Regions from separate parts of the Homo sapiens genome. Here region 2 is reported to be linked to region 1. Evidence: microRNA targets listed by miRTarBase, many of them from high-throughput screens and not tested one by one. Region 1 holds a microRNA gene; the other region holds the end of a gene's coding sequence.
Evidence for each region. The annotated mature microRNA hsa-miR-6759-5p reads UUGUGGGUGGGCAGAAGUCUGU and lies in region 1 at 1,737-1,758, opposite strand. An mRNA with a match to its seed (bases 2 to 7 or 8) in the 3' UTR can be bound and repressed. Matches are read on the target gene's strand: a 7mer-m8 pairs with bases 2 to 8, a 7mer-A1 pairs with bases 2 to 7 and ends in A, and an 8mer does both.

Region 2: the mRNA of REEP4 is a reported target of hsa-miR-6759-5p. Seed matches in the 3' UTR shown: 8mer at 2,717-2,724.

Annotation. Positions count from the first base shown.
Region 1 is chr12:57,746,920-57,750,315 of GRCh38, forward strand. MIR6759 (microRNA 6759) reads right to left here and starts at 1,763; the gene lies at 1,699-1,763. It overlaps TSPAN31 (tetraspanin 31), which reads left to right. Exons shown (of 6, transcript NM_005981.5): 5 at 99-212; 6 at 297-3,300. The coding sequence ends at 371. It overlaps CDK4 (cyclin dependent kinase 4), which reads right to left. Exons shown (of 8, transcript NM_000075.4): 6 at 2,535-2,585; 7 at 2,263-2,398; 8 at 808-1,698. The coding sequence ends at 1,606.
Region 2 is chr8:22,135,585-22,138,980 of GRCh38, forward strand. REEP4 (receptor accessory protein 4) reads right to left here. Exons shown (of 8, transcript NM_025232.4): 6 at 3,342-3,396; 7 at 3,055-3,209; 8 at 2,436-2,968. The coding sequence ends at 2,903. Among named protein-coding and RNA genes, the nearest start is that of REEP4, 4.6 kb to the right of the region's middle.

The DNA.
Region 1 (3,396 bases):
GTCAGATAACAGTAAAGTTTCTAGGGACATTCGGCATAGGTATTAGTCACTAGCAACTTTACATTCACAACTTTGCATTCTTCACGTTTTATCCTCAGATCTGCAAGAGCCAGAGCCCCACATGCCAGATGTGTGGAGAAAAGTTTCTTAAGCATTCAGACGAAGCCCTGAAAATCCTAGGGGGTGTTGGACTCTTCTTTAGCTTTACAGAGGTAACATTCTCCAGTTCCCTCACACACATCCTTTTTGAGACTGAGAATTAATTGATACTTATCTCTCTCCCTTTGTTCCTACAGATCCTTGGTGTTTGGCTAGCAATGAGATTTCGGAATCAGAAGGATCCTAGAGCCAACCCCAGTGCCTTTCTATGAGACTTTGGATCCTTCTGACTTTTCTTCTGCTCTCTCTAAGCTTTCTCTTCCTCCCTTAGGGAATATCTAGGGTCTGTAACCGTTTTGGTTTGAGAAAAAGGAAAGGCCCCTTGTCACATCCTCTAAAATTGATGGAATAGCAAGACTTTATGCCTTGACATATTTTAGTGGGAGCCAGACTATAAGGAATAAAAGGAAAAACTTTCTTCCTCTCTCTCCAAGAGGATATGGGAAGCTTCTGTGAGTGCATAGGATGGGGGCTGGAGTCATTCTTAGCTGTTTCCCTTCCTCTGTCCATATACTGGATCACCTCAACATACCCTGGTGTGGCTCTAAGGGTAAATCAGGGATAGGGCCAAGGAGAAAACAACCAAGAACTCTTTCCTGTAATAAGCAGGATCCAGTTTGAGAAAGTTTAGCGAATATAAAAGTAAAAGCCATTTAAAAATCTATATTCTTTTTTTTTTTTTGACACAGAGTCTTGCTCTGTTGCCCAGGCTGGAGTGCAATGGCATGATCTCGGCTCACCGCAACCTCTGCCTCCCGGGTTCAAGCGATCCTCCTGCCTCAGTCTCCCAAGTAGCTGGGATTACAGGTGTGCACCACCACGCCTGACTAATTTTGTATTTTTAGTAGAGACAGGGTTTCACCATGTTAGTCAGGCTGGTCTCGAACTCCTGACCTCAGGTGATCCACCCGCGTTGGCCTCCCAACGTGCTGGGATTATAGGCGTGAGCCACCACGCCCCGCCTAAAATCCATATTCAAAGAAGCAATTTCAGTTCCTTTCTAAGCTTTGTCAGTCAAGGGGCTCCACTGACTTCCTAGGCCCTGTAATTTAACCAGTCTTTAAGGTTTTGCAGGAAAGTCCCTTCTTCCAAGTGGTTTTTCCAAATCGCACAATGGCAAAGCCAAACAGAGGAAGAAACATTAAAAAAAAAAAAAAGACCATTATTTCTTTGTTTTGTTTTTCCTGTATAAAAAAGGACCCCAAATATAAAGGTAGGGAAAGGGACAAGAGGGAACATACCCCTTAGTGTAGAGAAATGGGAAGGAGAAGGAGAAGCCTCAAAAGGAGAGGTGGGAGGGGAATGTCATTAAGGCAGCAAAGTAATCTCTGTAGAAAGATGGAGGAGGACCCTCCATAGCCTCAGAGATAAAGGCAAAGATTGCCCTCTCAGTGTCCAGAAGGGAAATGGCAGCTTTTCTTCCTTCCATGGCAGCCACTCCATTGCTCACTCCGGATTACCTTCATCCTTATGTAGATAAGAGTGCTGCAGAGCTCGAAAGGCAGAGATTCGCTTGTGTGGGTTAAAAGTCAGCATTTCCTGAGGGGAGAGGCAAAGGTCAGAAAACCATGAAGAAAACAGACTTCTGCCCACCCACAACAATACCTGGGATGAGCTTTCTTCTTTTTTCTTTTTTTTTTTTTTTGAGACGGAGTCTCGCTCTATCACCCAGGCTGGAGTGCAATGGTATGATCTCAGCTCACTGCAACCTCCGCCTCCTGAGTTGAAGTGATTCTCCTATCTCAGCCTCCCAAGTAGCTGAGATTACAGGCGTGTGCCACCACCCCCGGCTTATTTTTGTACTTTTAGTAGAGACGAGGTTTCACCATGTTGGCCAGGCTGGTCTCGAACTCCTGACCTCAGGTGATACGCCCACCTTGGCCTCCCAAAGTGCTGGGATTACAGGCGTGAGCCACCGTGCCCAGCCAGGATGGGTTCTCTTCTATATCCTTCTCTGTGGGTGGCTATTTGCAGCTGTAATAAAAACTACAGCCCATCTACCAACCAAGTTTCATTAACCACAGTGGCCAGGGCCCTGCATACTGCTCTATTTCTTTCCCCAGTCTCTATTTCTTTCCCTGTGCCCACAGCCATCTCCAGTACCAGCAGCAGCTGTGCTCCCGACTCCTCCATCTCAGGTACCACCGACTGCACTGGGCGGGGCCCTCTGGGGGGAAAGGCTCCACGGGGCAGGGATACATCTCGAGGCCAGTCATCCTCTGGAGGCAGCCCAATCAGGCTGTGGGGGACAGGAGAACTCTGGTCAGGAGGGTCCTCCAGTTCCCATCCCCATGGGCAGAGCCAGTTGCCATCCTGGGTTCAGCAGAAAGAGGACTCAGAATAGAAAATCTTTTTCTCCCATGTTGGTCACTTACTCAAAGATTTTGCCCAACTGGTCGGCTTCAGAGTTTCCACAGAAGAGAGGCCTAAGGTGAGAAGGGATATAAGGTAGCAGTCATTTTCAAAGATATCTTAGTTGAATGGTTACTGCTTAGTGGCTCAAAATAGGAAGTATAGGGAATAAAGGCCAACAATTCCAGCACTTTGGGATGCTGAGGTGAGAGGACTGCTTGAGCCCAGGAGTTCTAGATCAGCCTGGGCAAGCAAGACCTTGTCTCTTTTTTTAAAAAAAAAGAAATGCCAGGTGCAGCGGCTCACGCCTGTAATCCTAGCACTTTGGGAGTCTGATGTGGGTGGATCATGAGGTCAAGAGATCGAGACCATCCTGGCCAACATGGTGAAACCCTGTCATTACTAAAAGTACAAAAATTAGCTGAGCATGGTGGCGTGCACCTGTGGTCCCAGCTACTTGGGAGGCTGAGTCAAGAGAATTGCTTGAATCTGGGAGGTGGAGGTTGCAGTGAGCAGAGATCGCACTACTGCACTCCAGCCTGGCGACAGAGCAAGACTCCATCTAAAAAAAAAAAAAGCCAGTCATGGTGGCGTGCACCTGTAGTCTCAGCTACTCAAGAGGCTGAGATGGGAGGATTGCTTTAGCCCAGGAGGTAGAGGCTACAGTGAGCTGTAATTGGGCCACTGCACTCCAGCCTGGGTGACAGAGTGAAACCTTATCTCAATAAATAAATAAATAAATAAATAAATAAATAAATAAATAAATAAAAAATAAAGAGAATAAAGGGATATGAAGTTCCTAATTCCAGAACATTTCAGAGCTTTCTGCTATGGGCAAGTTAGTAGTACGCAAGTAAAAGAATGGGGCCAGATGCAGTAGCTTAT
Region 2 (3,396 bases), not on the chromosome of region 1:
GAGGGCAAGTGAAGCCCCCACCCCAGTGAAATCTCCCTCACCACCCCACGACTTCAGGCCTCTCCCCAACTCTTGTTTTCTTTTACTCCGTTTTGTTTTGCCATTCATCATATGCCCTTCTGGGTTTGTTATTTTTTTTTTTTTTCTGGAGATGGAGTCTTGCTATGTCACCCAGGCTAGAGTGCAGTGGTGCAATCTCGGCTCACTGCAACATCTGCCTCCCGGGCTCAAGCGATTCTTGTGCCTCAGCCTCCCAAGTAGCTTGGATTACAGGCACGCGCCACCATGCCCGGCTAATTTTTGTTTTTTTTAGTAGAGACAGGTTTTCACCATGTTGGCCAGCTGGTCTCGAACTCCTGACCTCAGGTGATCCATCCGCCTCAGCCTCCCAAAGTGCTGGGATTACAAGGGTGAGCCACTGTGCCCGGCGCCCCTCTGGTTTTGTTCTCTTGGTTTGGGTACATGGATCCTGCCAGCCCGCCTCTATCAACGCAACTCCCAGGCAGAGGTGCATCAGGAGTCAGGGTCCCCGACTCACAAGCAGCACAATGGTACACAAGTTGTTGTGGCTCTCCAAGCCTCGGTTTTTCATCTGTAAAATGGGTATAGCCCTGTGGGTGCAGTGGCTCATGCCTGTAATCCCAGCACTTTCAGAGTTCAAGGCAGATGGATCACTTGAGCCCCAGAATTCAAGAACAGCTTGGGCAACATAGTGAGACCCCGTCTTTACCAAAAAAATATGGTAATTAGCCAGGTGTGATGGAGAGTGCCCGCAGTCCAAGCTACTCAGGAGGCTGAGGTGGGAGGATCCCTTAAGTCCGGGAGTTCGAGGCTGCAGTGTACTATGATCATTCCACTGTATTCTAGCATGGGTGATTCAGTGAGAACCTGTTTTAAAAAATGGATATAGTCCCTATTTGACAGGCTTGTTGGGAGGATTCAAGGAAATCATCTCTGTAAAATGCCCAGCACAAGGTCAGGCACACAACAAATATTCCATACATGTTAGTCTCCATGTCCTTGCCTCCCAGGCAGGAATCATCTCCTTCACTCTGGTACTGCTTAGTGATTAAGTGCACAGACTCTGGAGCCAGACTGCCTGATTCCAAGCCCTTCTGCTATGTACTAGCTATGTGACCTTGGGCAAATCACTTGCCCTCTCTGTGCCTGTTTTCCTGTTTGGAAAATGGAGACTGTAAGACTAGTGTGTACCCACCCCCCAAAGATCGTTATGAGAATTAAATTAATATATGCCAGGGGCTTAGAGCAGCGTCTGCGTGGGCAGCCACACTCTGGGCGCCAGCCGTTACTACTGCCTGCATCCCTGCAGTGTCTGGCAACATGTCTGGTACCTGCTCGAGGCTCAATAAAGATTCATTTTTGAATGAATTAATGAAGCGATAAGACAACCCCACGATGCAAAGGCAGGCCATGTTGGACGCCAGTGAGCCCCTATACGTGAGAAGCTAAATCACCGCAGCAGATTAAGAGCCTCCCCCAAATAAAACCTGGATAATCCCCACACCAAGAGTTAATCCACACTCTCTGGGGCCACTCCAGGTTACCACCCCATTTCCCCTCTTCTCATCCCACACTCTCACCCACCTCTTTGCTTAATCAATCAAAAGCAGGGAGGAGGAGCAGGTGCAGCAGTGGCAGAGGGGCGCACCCCGGGCATCATGGTGAGACCAGCACCGGGGCAGTAGAGGGCAGAGCTGGGTACCCCGGTTGCCCCAGGGATCGGAGGAGTTGGAGTGGAGCCAGCCAGGCAAACAGCCTTGGTCTCAGGAGAGCAGAGACTCCTTGGATGGGGCAGGCCAAGGACCAGTGACCACAAGCAGCAGGGAGGGCCACTGAGTTCCGCCAGGCCCAGCAGGGCGAGGCTCTGGCCAGTCTCCCAACCCCACCCTCCTTGACCTGGAAGCCGGGGGCAGCCCAGATCCCAGACACTGCTGCCCTCTCGTGGCCACTCCTCAGAGGTGCAATGGTGCCCCTGCGGGTACCTGACTGTTTACAGAACTTAATGTCCCCAGAGCTGCCCCAGGGGGCTCCTTCTTCCAGGCTCCTGGAGGAGATACTCCTCCCCAGGTCTCCTCTGCCTAGCTTCGACCTCCCTATGGGACTAACGTGCTGCCCCAAGCCCCTCCTGCCTGTGCTCCCACTGGTTTCTCTATAGCTGCACCTTCCTGCCAAGGCCTAACTGAAGTTTCGGGTTCTGACCAGTCCTCTGGACTCGTCCCCACTTTCCCATCAGTGCTCTCAAAACTCCCCAAAAGCTCCTTCGTGAAACCATGTGCTGCATCACAACTCTCTGTCAATGGTTCTGTCTCCCCCAGAGGACTGGGCTCCTTCAGCCTTAGACCTAGGCTAGGACTGGGCTGTCCCATTTCAAGGGTGTGAGGCGAGCAACGGGAGTAAGAATCAGGAGAAACAGAGCCCCTTTATGTATTTATTTATCAAAACACTCGCAAACCTGACCTCACTCACCAACACACACACACACAACCAGGACACATGTGCCAGGCCTTATGAAAGGCTATCAAGTACTTTGAAGGACAGGAAGGAATGAACACACCCAGGTGGACGTTTGGTTTCATTTGCAGGGGTTCAGGGAGGGTTGCAGGGGTTCAGGGAGGGCTCTTGTCCCACAACCGGGGAAGGGAGAGGGCAGAGCAAGGCAATAAATAGAACCCTGGGCCCAGCCTGCTTTGGTACATTGTGGGTGCATCCCTGCATGTGGCCTTGGCAGCATCTGCTCCCGGCCCTTAACCATCAGCAGGAGTCAGGAGGGTGGGGCCCAGGCAGCTGGTGCAGGCAGGCCAGATGTGCAGCCCAAGGTCCCTCCAAATAGCCCTGGAGCCCTGCAGGGCACGAGGTAAGAAGGGGGCAGATGCAGCAGACCCTAGCTGTCCACGTCTGAGGGCACAGTCTTTTTCCTCGTCCGAACCTTCAGGGAGCGCGAGGTGCCCTGGGGAAAGGGGAGGCACAGCATGAGGGTGTGGGGAGCACCAGCCAGCAGAGCCCTCCTCCCTCCTGTCGTCCTCCCACACTGACCTCCCGCACCGGTGGCTTCCTCTTGACCACACGCAGGCTCTGGCTGCGGATTAGGGGCTTCTCTCGGGGCCGGGCTGGCGCCCGGGGGACTGCCTCAGTATCTGACCAACACTCATCCTCGGTGTCGCTGTCCTGCAGGCCCCCGGCCCGGTACCCTGTGTGGAGGAGGAGGTGAAGCTGAAAGCCTGCGACCAGGCCAGCCCTTCCTCGAGCCTTGGGGGAAGCCATGGTGTGAGTGAAGGAAGCCATCCCTCCTGGCATGGCTCTGGGCCCCTCTGCCCGCTCACCAATGGGTGGCCTCCGGTGGGACACCTGGTCCTCCAGGTAGAGGGGGTCATGGTA